2 separate regions of the Homo sapiens genome follow, and region 1 is linked to region 2. Evidence: fine-mapped expression QTL. A gene starts in region 2. The other region holds a variant in brackets. All regions are shown on one strand. Distances are between the middles of the regions.

Region 1 (5,512 bases), 30 kb before region 2:
AAATAAAAAGATTTTACATGTGGAAATACAAAGACACATAACTGTTCATGCATTAATGCATTACATTAGTAATTTAAAACCATTCAGGTATGTTTCCAAACTGATACTTTAGCAGCAAAAATCTTATTGTGGTCTTGTAACACTTTCATGAAGACAATCAAAGATATATAGCCAGGGTTAGTTTCAAAAGCCTAATATTTAAGTAACATATTACTTTAGCCAGAATCACTCTGACAAATCATTATATTTCTCCACAAATAATATTTTAAGCTAAATGTGAATATGTGCTAACTCTCCTAACCAGGTATTTAAAAATGTGACATCAGTAAAAGTCACTTTTATATGTATTTTTCAAAGGACTTTTTTTTAAAAAAACCTTCTTAAACCAATCAAACAAAAAAGAAATCTATTTCTAACAATGCATGATAAAATTCAGCACAAAATTTCAGGTAAATAAATATTTTTAAAAGTTAATGCCATAAACAGTATTTAACTAAACCAGACATAAGTAGCAACATTTTTTTATTGCCCTTTGCCATGTGCTCTAACCAATATTGTGAACGTTAACCGGCCAGGGTAAGTCAAAGGGGAAGAACTTCAGGGCAGTCCTAATTGAATTAATTTCATTTTTATTACATAAGCAACCACGGCATAACCAGGTATTTGATTCTTGGCTTTAAGAAAAAAGGAGAAAAATGTTTGAATGTGAAATAATTTACACTTGTATTTCCAAACTTTGGCTTAATGAGTCTTTAAGAATTTAGGGAAAAAAATGAAGTTCTTTTTAAAAGCTAAAGTTGAAAGATTGTTAAAAATACAAAAGATAGATACTTACCTGGTAAAAAAACTACTAAATTTTAAAAATTTAATGTATTTAAATAACATAGTTCTTTATAGGATAAATAATTGTACCATGTGGAGTGCAAATCAATCACACCAACCTGCTTGATCTTGCAATAAGAAGTAGTAAGCAAATCGCAGACAGGAAGCAATACGCACAGAGATGAGGAGGAAAAAAAGGAAAACATTATTTCTCTTGTGAAACAAAGAAAAATATATAATAGCATTCATTTAAGTGTAGAAATAAAAATCAAACCGTTATCAAAACTGAAATAGAGCCCATGTAAAAAGAAAGCATATTCAACACAACGAGAGATGTCATTTAAGCAAGAATATTAAAGTTAACTTAGTCTTAGATTATAACTCAAGTCAATCTCAAGATCTCACACTGATTCCCCAAGTCCTGCAAAGGTCACAGTTCAACACCATGTGGTTATGCTAACAGAAGACATGGAATTAGGAACCTGCTAAGATCTGGGAAGTAATCTAAAAGGGCAAAACAGAAAATTAAGGCAATTTTAACAACTAGTACATTTAAAGTGACAAAATTCACACTGTCCATATCAAAAATGTCCCAATTCAATATTTCTTTTAGTATATGGATCTATTATAGGCATGCTTCACTTTAAGAAAATCTAACACAAAAACCTGAACCAATCCAACAGATAAATTAGATTACAGTAATTTCCACTGATTATTTGATTAACAGAAAGGTCTAATGAAGAATTTTTAAAGACACAAGTTCTCCCAATACATCCGATTTCCCAACCGGATTAAGGGCTTTTTTTTTTTTCCAGAAAATAAAATTATTACATAAAATGAAGTATACCTGTACAGTAACAAACTTACATTCCTTCTATTAGTAGATTTTTAAGGGTAATTATAAACAATGATTCTACAGGAGTCACTGCCAATTAAGGACTCAAGCAAGAAACACCTTTTAAAAAGGCCATTGAGATATTTAAAAGGGAAGGTACACACAGCAACCACATGCTAGGACAACCATCTCTCCACTTCACCAACACGCCCACATTACAAGAAAAAAATTATGTGCTAGGTACGCAAATAGGAATTAAAACTTCTTGAATTGAACAAAGTACAACTCATTTCATAACATACTTTCATATAACTACTCTTTAAGAATTAAGTTTTAAAACAGAAAACTAAATTGCAACGCCTCCCACTCAAATATTTTCGCATATTTCACAGTTTATTATACAAAGTAATACCTCTATGTGGTTTCTAATGCAATTCCAAGTATTTTACAAATTATCCTTTGAAATGAATTGTTTTGGTAACTTGCCTACAA[A/C]TTGTCAATAGAGAAGGAGATTTCTAATATTCTTGGAATTATTCTTCTAGAAAGCTAAAAGCATAAGAACAATAAGCAATTATTTTTGTCATTAGTTTTGAAAGGGTAAGTATATAGATAATGCTTTAAAAGACAGTAAGCTGCAGGCTGGTACAAGAAAGCAACACTACTCCCCTTTCTTCTGAAAATAAAATATAAATAAATTAAATTAAATAACACTTTTCAACTTAATTAAATTGTTTTAACAAAAGCCTTTAAGTTTGAAATAAGTCTAGATGGATCCTGCATAAAATCCACGTGATTCTGCATTCTCTAATCATACCTTAGAAAATCTCTTAAAATCAGCCGGGCGCAGTGGCTCACGCCTATAATCCCAGCACTTTGGGAGGCCGAGGCGGGCAGATCATGAGGTCAGGAGATCGGGACCATCCTGGCTAACACGGTGAAACCCCGTCTCTACTAAAAATACAAAAATTAGCCAGGAGTGGTGGCGGGCACCTGTAGTCCTAGCTACTCGGGAAGCTGAGGCAGGAGAATGGCGTGAACCCGGGAGGCGGAGCTTGCAGTGAGCCAAGACTGCGCCACTGCACTCCGGCCTAGGCAAAAGAGCAAGACTCCGTCTCAAAAAAAAAAAAAAAAAAAGAAAGAACTTTTCTTAAAATCTATCAGGTAATACAGAAATATGGATAAATGTCCATTTGAAATAAAACACTATTCAATTCATCTTTACTTGCTTCAAGCTTTATGTTTTTCTTTATTTGGGAGCCTTTAATCTTAAGCTACCACTAAGAATAGGACACCAAAGTGTAAAAAATTTGTAATTGTACGACATGTTATAATGGGCACTGGTGTACTTCAAATATAATTTGTACTTTTAGAAATACAAGATTTGATGTTACGTGTCCCTTATTCTGAGCAGGATTAGAAATGTGTCATGAAACCTAAAAAATAAGCATAAGAATTATTCTTTTATACAGCTTACTAGCTCTCTTTACATTATCTCAATTGCAAAAGCATGAATCTCTCTTCCATTGTCTCAAACATAAGCTAAAGCCTATGTTTTAACAATTATGATTAACTGGAAGCAATGAAAGGGGGTGGAGGAATCATCACATGCTTTGTTCTACTGAGGAATCCAACATGTATTCTTTAGGTAATGACAGGGAGTGGTGCAGCATTGCTCAAATGAAGCCCATGGGTTATGGAAAAGCCAAAGCTCTGTTAGAGAATGTAAGAGCTACCACTCACTAGGCAAGAACTTATCCAGAGGTTTCTCTATGACAGAACATGTGGAGTCTGAACTACTGCTGCTGCTACTGCCTGGAAAACAAAGAAATGAGCCCAACAGGAACCAAAGAAAGAGGAAACAAGAAAATGAACACACACACAGAGAAAAATTCAGTTTTCAGAGAAAAAAATTTTAAAGGACAATCAAGCTTTGTATTAAAGAACCAAAATTTACTTTCCTAAAAACCAATCTTGGTAGTTTATCCAATATTCTCTACTTTACAAAGCCATACAGAGGAATTAGAAAGTGTACTGCTTTAAGCAACTACTGTGGGCAGATCCTACTGGTCACCTAAAGCCTAATCATTCAAAGGGTTGAAATGACAAGAATAAAAAATAAAGAAGTCATTTGGTGAGATTTTAGTCTACTGAAACTATTTAGGTTGATAAGTTAAAGGAATGGAGTTTTAAAACTCAAAGTCATACACAATAAATATTATAGGAGTGATAAATTACCCTTCATAATAGGTTAGTCTATCTCCACTTTCAGTCTCTCCCTCCCCCAAAATATCAAACTATCAAATATGTTTAAGGTTTGATAGCAAAACTTTCAAAAGGCTCACTGAAAATTTTTAAATTTCTAAGCCTGGAAGGAAGATACATTATTGTTAAATATTTTAACATATTACTGGCATTTTTCTATTTAAAATTTTATTTTTAACAAATCTGTTATCAGCTTTAGCTTTGAAAATAATAATCTACTCTGTGAAAAACTAGGTGTGAACAAAAAAAATTTCTCTAAATCAGGCAAACGTTTTCTGCAAAAGGACAGATAAGTGTTTGAGACTTTGCAGGCCATACGGCTTCATGTGAAAGCAGCCATAGAGCATATGTAAATAAATGAGCATGGCTGTTTTAATAAAATTTTATTTACAAAAACAGGTGGTGAGCTGGATTTAGCCAGCAGACATTTTGCCAATTTTTGCCATAAATCATTATTTTTCTGTCTTTTGAAGTTACAAAATCTTTATAGTTTTTAAATTTGGGACTCCTAATCAAGCAGTGATGGGTTTATTTTTAGCACAATCATTTTAATAAGACAAACAAAATATGCACCAGCTTGAAAACAATGACCACATTAATGGAAGAGAGTTCTGAAATAAATATTTATGGTAAAAAGGTTTGAAATGTAGGCCATTATAATATGTCCATTTCATTTGCATATTATCTATATTCTGATCATAATAAACAGTCTTAATTCACACGTGGCAACAAATCCCCCACAACAGAGTGAGAATGAGAATACATTTTATAAAGAAAAAGAACTAAATTTAAAAATGGAATTCCTCATACAAATTTACTATTTAAAAATTCAATGACTTTTAAAGACTAATCTTGTTTGTGGAAAAACTCCACATTATCCTAATTTCCTTAAAATACTTAGGTTCCAGCCAGGCATGGTGGCTCACGCCTGTAGTCCCAGCACTTTGGGAGGCCGAGGCAGATGGATCATGAGGTCAGGAGATCAAGACCAGCCTGGCTAACAGGGTGAAACCCCGTCTCTACTAAAAATACAAAAAATTAGCCGGGCGAGGTGGCATTTGCCTATAGTCCCAGCTACTCGGGAGGCTGAGGCAGGAGAATCGCTTCAACCTGGGAGGTGGAGGTTGCAGTGAGCCGAGATCGCGCCACTGCACTCCAGCCTGGGCGACAGAATGAGACTCCGTCTCAAAACAAACAAACAAACAAACAAACAAAAAAACTTAGGTTCCTAACACAGATGTAAGTCCCTACATAAAATTAAAACACACAGGAAATTTTAAAATGGCATACCCAGTATTATAGAGTCTTACAATTCTAAATTCTAAAAAAACAGAACATATATTCAAAGTCAGCTATAAACGGATCAATACAGGAGAAAAAATGCAAAGTTAACCAGGTAAATGGCATACATCTTCTGTTCTAATTGTTATCTAATATATTAAACAGATAACGGCAAAATAAAAGTCATGCACTCTACCACCTTGTGAAACCACCTAATTTCTACAAATCAGATTACTAAACAGAACTTACCCCTTCTTTTTTTCCTTTTCTCTCCATCTTCTCCAACCTCACCCTCTTCATCATCATCTTCCT
Region 2 (5,242 bases):
GAACTCCTGACCGCAAGTGATCCACCCACCTCGGCCTCCCAAAGTGCTGAGATTACAGGCATGTGCCACCGCACCCCGTCATTTCTGAAATTTTATGATTAAGAAAATATAATGAAACACAATCCTATTATTGAAGTGAAAAGGACAGTTTAGTTGAACAGATACTTGTTAAATTCCTACTGTTTCAGATTCTCTTCTAAGCATTGAAGAGAAACAAATATGAGTCATTGTCATTGACTCTGACATTGTCACTGACAAGTAACAGATTATATCAGTACAATACACTTCTATCTATCTCTCATCCTATTCCTCTCATCTATTCATCACCCTAGTCTAAATCACCATCATCTTGGCCCTGGATTACTGCCTCCTAACTATACTCCTGAATCTAATCAGATTGCCCTACTGCCTATTCTCCAAATAGCAGTCAGTGTCAACACACATCTAATCATGTCACTCTCCTACTTAAAAATTCTTCAGTGGTTTCCCATAGATCTCAGAACAAAAACCAGAATCCTTAAGGTGGTCTGTAAGGTCTGGCTTCCACCCACGTCTGCTTCACTGGGCTTATTTCACAAGATATTCTGCCTGGCTCATCCATGCCACAGCCACACTGAGCTGCTTGGCCTTTTCTTGTCACCATGCTCCTCACCACTGGCCTTTCCATGTGCTGTTCCTTCTACCTAGAACCATCTTCAATCCCCTCTTCACTTAGTTAACATCTACTTATCCTTCAGAACTCAACAGCCACTTCACCTGGGAAGACTTCCTGACTAGGTCAAATACTCTTATAGGCTCAGAGAGCACCCTGCTCTCCCCTTCCTGGACACAAATTTTACTTTTGCTTGTTCCTTATTTGATTAATGTCTTTCTGTCTACACCAGAGGTTGCAAACAGGTAGTCAAGAGGCTGAATTCAGCCCACAAATTTCTTTTGTTTGGTTCATAGTATTTAAAGAGCTTTTGAATTAGTTGCTAAAATTGAGAAATTTCACAAAAATAATTTCTAAAGTCTCTTCTTGGGAGGAAAAAAAATGACCTGTTATCATCTGCAGACCATCATTCTTACATGGCAATACATTCCAATTCACCAGAATCTACTTCTCTCTATTGTAGGATACCCACCCACTTCATTATTAAGGTTTTGTGTCTTACGTCTGTAAATATGTATGATTTTCACCTCTGCCCAAGAAGGCAAGCCTCTCTCTTTCCAAGTTCAAGAACCTGACTGGTGTTGCTCAATGTTGTATCTTCAGGGCCTAGCATGTGGTTGGTGCCCAATATTTACTGAATTAAAACTTGAAAGCAGTGAACAGAACAAATATAGAGCATTTAATCTTAAATGTCAAGCACTGTCCTTCTAGTCTCCTGTGTATTATTTCACGCGGATAACAACCCCATGAGGTAAAGTTTACATGGGAACTAAGGACCCAGACAGATTAAATAATTATCCGAGGCCTCACAACCACTAAATAAGCGGCCATGGCTCAATTTTCCTCCATGACCCCTAATAAGGGGTCTTAGAAGGCCCCATTATTAAGTTCACGATAACAATCTGTGAAATCCTGGAAGATAAACATAACACCGCCACACACACAAAGACACCTACGGGTTTCATTCTGCATCATAAGCTAAAGCGCCACAAGAGCAATGACAGCTCAAGGCTAGGAGACTCGGAGTATGGGGCCTGGAATAGGGGCAGGCAGCCTTCGCTCCGCTGCCTCCCTGCGCTTGCTCCGAGGCGCAAAGGCCTCACCAGGTGTGCAGCATCCAAAGAGCCCCACCGTGGCCACCCCCAGACGCCCCGCTCAGCAGGAAGGGCTGCGAGCCAGAGCGCATCCTCCAGCACAGCGCCTTTTTGATAAGCGGCGCAGGCCCCACGGGATGCAGCAGCGACGAGGGCGGCAGGGCCTGACCCCAGGTCCCTGTCGAGGCCGGCCGGACCCCCGCGGCCCCGGGGCTGACCAGCCAGGCTCTCCAACCACCTCCACCGCACGACCGAGCCTGCCCCGCCCCACCCAGGCCGCCTGCCGGCTCCGCGCCTCCATGGCAACGGCCGCGCCCCCGGGCCAGGCCGCTAGGATGAGAAGAAACCCCAGAAGCGAAGCGACTCTCCTCACCGGCATCTTGGCCCCCTCCCGTGCCCGGCGGACGTCCCCGCCCGGGGTGCAGCCCAGCGACACCGGGTGCGCAGAAAGGATGGCCAGAGACTACCGAAACACCTCGTTGACGCTCTCGAGACTGCGGCTTCTCGGGCGAGAGCGCCCAGTGCGCAGCCGCATTCCGAGCTCGCCCCGCCCCAAGCCCAGTCTCAGGCTCTCTCGGCCCTTGAATTACGCCTGCGCGGAGGCTTTCCGAGTCCATCTCCTAGGACGCCAGACTGAGGCCGCGCGTGCGCAATGCTGCCATTCTGCTGCGCTAGAAATGTGGCACGCACTGAGGCGGAGGTAACCTGGCAGCCCGGGGTTGGGAGGAGGAGCTGCTCTTAGGCCCGTCTTCTGGCCCTTGCAATACCCGGAATATTAAAATCAGTAATAGCAATTGTACATTTTGTCTCATCCGAAGAATTGAAGACCTTACCTACCTGACCTCGCTTGATTGCTAACTTCCTCATGACCTGTCTTACCATTAGAAAGTGAGCTCTCTTAAGGAGATTGTTAGTATTCTCACATCTATCTCCAGAGCCCACACAGAGCCTGGCACAGAGTGGGATTTTTATACGTGTTGGTCAAAGAACCAGTGATCCGTCCATCCTCTTTCTAGTCCACTTGAATGTGTAATGGGCATTTCAAGTTAATCATGTCCAGAATTGAAATCTTGATCCCCCATCAATCGCCCCACTACCCACTCCACCCCCATCAAAAAATTTAAAAGGGCTCTCTCTCATCCCTCTCAGACTTTCTTCATCTCAATATGTGGGAGCTTAATTCCGACAACTGCTCAGGTCAAAATTGCAGTCTCTTTCATACACAATATTCTATCTTTAAATACAGCCTGTTGTATCTATCTTTGTAGTGGAACCAGAATTTGGCCACTTCTACCACCACCATCGTCTCTCACGTGCATTACTACAATCGCTCAGAACTGGTTTCCTTGATTGTGTGTCCTTGTCCCTTTTCAGTGTGCTGGACAGGAGCCAGAGTGCTGGTGCTAAAACATGAATCAGATCTTCTCTTTTCTCTGCTCAAAACCCTCCATTGATTTCCCATCTTACAAAGCTAAAGCCACAAGCCCTACAATCCTCCCTCTTGCTTCTTCTGCACCAGCCCCACCTGGCCTCCTTGCTTCATCCAACATTCCCGTCGTGCTTCCATCTTAGCATGCAAGGGCTGTGAGCTTGCAGTAGGAACTGATAGAAATAAAGATAAAGCATTTTACATAGTGCCAGTGTACTGTTCTACATGCTTTCGTTTTTTAATTCATTTAATCCACACAATAACCTTTTGAAATAGATACTATTTATTATTATTTTACAGATAAAGTAATTGAGGCACAGGACCATTAAATAACTTTTCCAAGGTCATACATATAAACAATGGCAGAGCCCAGGTCCAAACCCAGGCAGCCTAGACAGCTCTTTCCCTAAAAAACCACCTGACCACTCACCTCCTCCAGAAAGTCTTTGTTCACATAACCCCAGTGAACCCTAACATGATTTCCTTATTTAAAATTTCAACCTTCAGCCCAAACTCTTCTTTTTTTCCCTCCCCACTTTATATTTCTCCATAGTACCTATCACCATTCAATATTTTATATATACACACATACAAGCTTTACTGAGATATAATTTACACACCATACCATACAATCACCGATTTAAATTGTACAAGTCAATAGTTCTTACTATATATGGAGTTGTGCAACCATAACCTAGAACATTTTTATCATTCCAAAAAGACATTCTGTACTCATAAGCCACTCCCCCTTGCTCTCTGCAACCCTCCTCCCACCCCACTCCCAACATCCCAGACCTAGACAACCCACCAATCTACTTTCTATCTCTGTGGATTTGCCTATTCTGGACATTTCATATAAATGAAATTACACAATATGCAGCCTTTTGTGAGTAACTTCTTTCACTTACAAAGTTTTCAAGCTGTATCCCTATTATAGCATATATCAGCAATTTGTTACTTTTTATGGCTGAATAATATTCCATTGCATGGCTATAACATGTTTTTTTACCTATTTGTCATTGATGGATATTTGGGTTGTTTCTACTTTTTGCCTATCGTGAATAATGCTGCTACAAGTTTTTGTATGAGCCTATGTTTTCATTCCTCTTGGTTACATATGTAGAAGTAGAATTGCTGGATCATTTGGTAATGCTAATGTTTAACATTTTGAGGAACTGCCAAGTTGTTTTCCACAGTAGTGCACCATTTTAAATTCCCACCAGTAACATGTAAAGTTTACAATTTCTCCACATCCTTGCCAACACTCACTTTTGTGTAAAGTAGTATCTTGCTGGAGTATTTATTTATTTTCATTTCCCTGATCATAATGATGTTGAGCATTTTTTTTCATGTGCTGTTGCAATTTGTATAACTTCTTTGGAGAAATGTCCATTCAAACCCTTTACCCATTTTATTTGCCTTTTCATTATTAAGCTGTAAGAGTTCTCTACATAATCTGAATGCAAAGCCCTTTTCAAGTATATGACATGCAAATATTTTCCCCCATTCTGTGGGTTTTCTTTTTACTTTATGGATATCGTCCTTTGAAGCACAAAAGTTTTAAATTTTGATCAAGTCCAATTTACATATTTTTTCTTTTGTCACTATGCTTTTGATAAGTAAGAAACCATTTCCTAACCCAAGATTATGAAGATTTACCTAGAGTTTTATAGTTTTAGCTGTCACATTCAGGTCTATAACCTATTTTTCAGGGTTTTTTGTTTTTGTTTTTGAGACGGAGTCTCACTCTGTCGCCCAGGCTGGAGTGCAGTGGTGCCATCTCGGCTCACTGCAAGCTCCGCCTCCTGGGTTCACCCATTCTCCTGCCTCAGCCTCCTGAGTAGCTGGGACTACAGGAGCCCGCCACCACGCCTGGCTAATTTTTTTTTTTTTTTTTTTTTTGTATTTTTAGTAAAGACGGGGTTTCATTGTGTTAGCCAGGATGGTCTCAATCTCCTGACCTCGTGATCCGCCCGCCTCCGCCTCCCAAAGTGCTGAGATTACAGGCGTGAGCCACCGTGCCCGGCCCGGGGTTTGTTTTTTTGTTTGTTTGTTTGTTTGTTTTGT

Alleles and levels. Positions count from the first base shown, and alleles are read on the strand shown. Sizes are in standard deviations (SD) of each study's normalised expression.
In carriers of allele A in region 1, the expression in nucleus accumbens of the gene that starts at base 2,252 in region 2 tends to be lower than with C alone (small effect, 0.28 SD a copy in GTEx).

Evidence for each region. PIP is the estimated chance that this variant, and not a neighbour inherited with it, causes the effect.
Region 1: its variant is fine-mapped to the expression of KIF3A in nucleus accumbens (GTEx, PIP 0.94).

The regions. Positions count from the first base shown.
Region 1 is chr5:132,705,510-132,711,021 of GRCh38, forward strand. KIF3A (kinesin family member 3A) reads right to left here. Exons shown (of 19, transcript NM_001300791.2): 9 at 5,450-5,512; 10 at 3,398-3,469; 11 at 942-950. Among named protein-coding and RNA genes, the nearest start is that of KIF3A, 29 kb to the right of the region's middle. The variant A/C (reference allele first, on the strand shown) is at 2,150.
Region 2 is chr5:132,735,295-132,740,536 of GRCh38, forward strand. KIF3A (kinesin family member 3A) reads right to left here and starts at 2,252. Exons shown (of 19, transcript NM_001300791.2): 1 at 2,120-2,252. The coding sequence starts at 2,125. RefSeq lists an enhancer at 1,557-1,656 and a silencer at 1,807-2,116.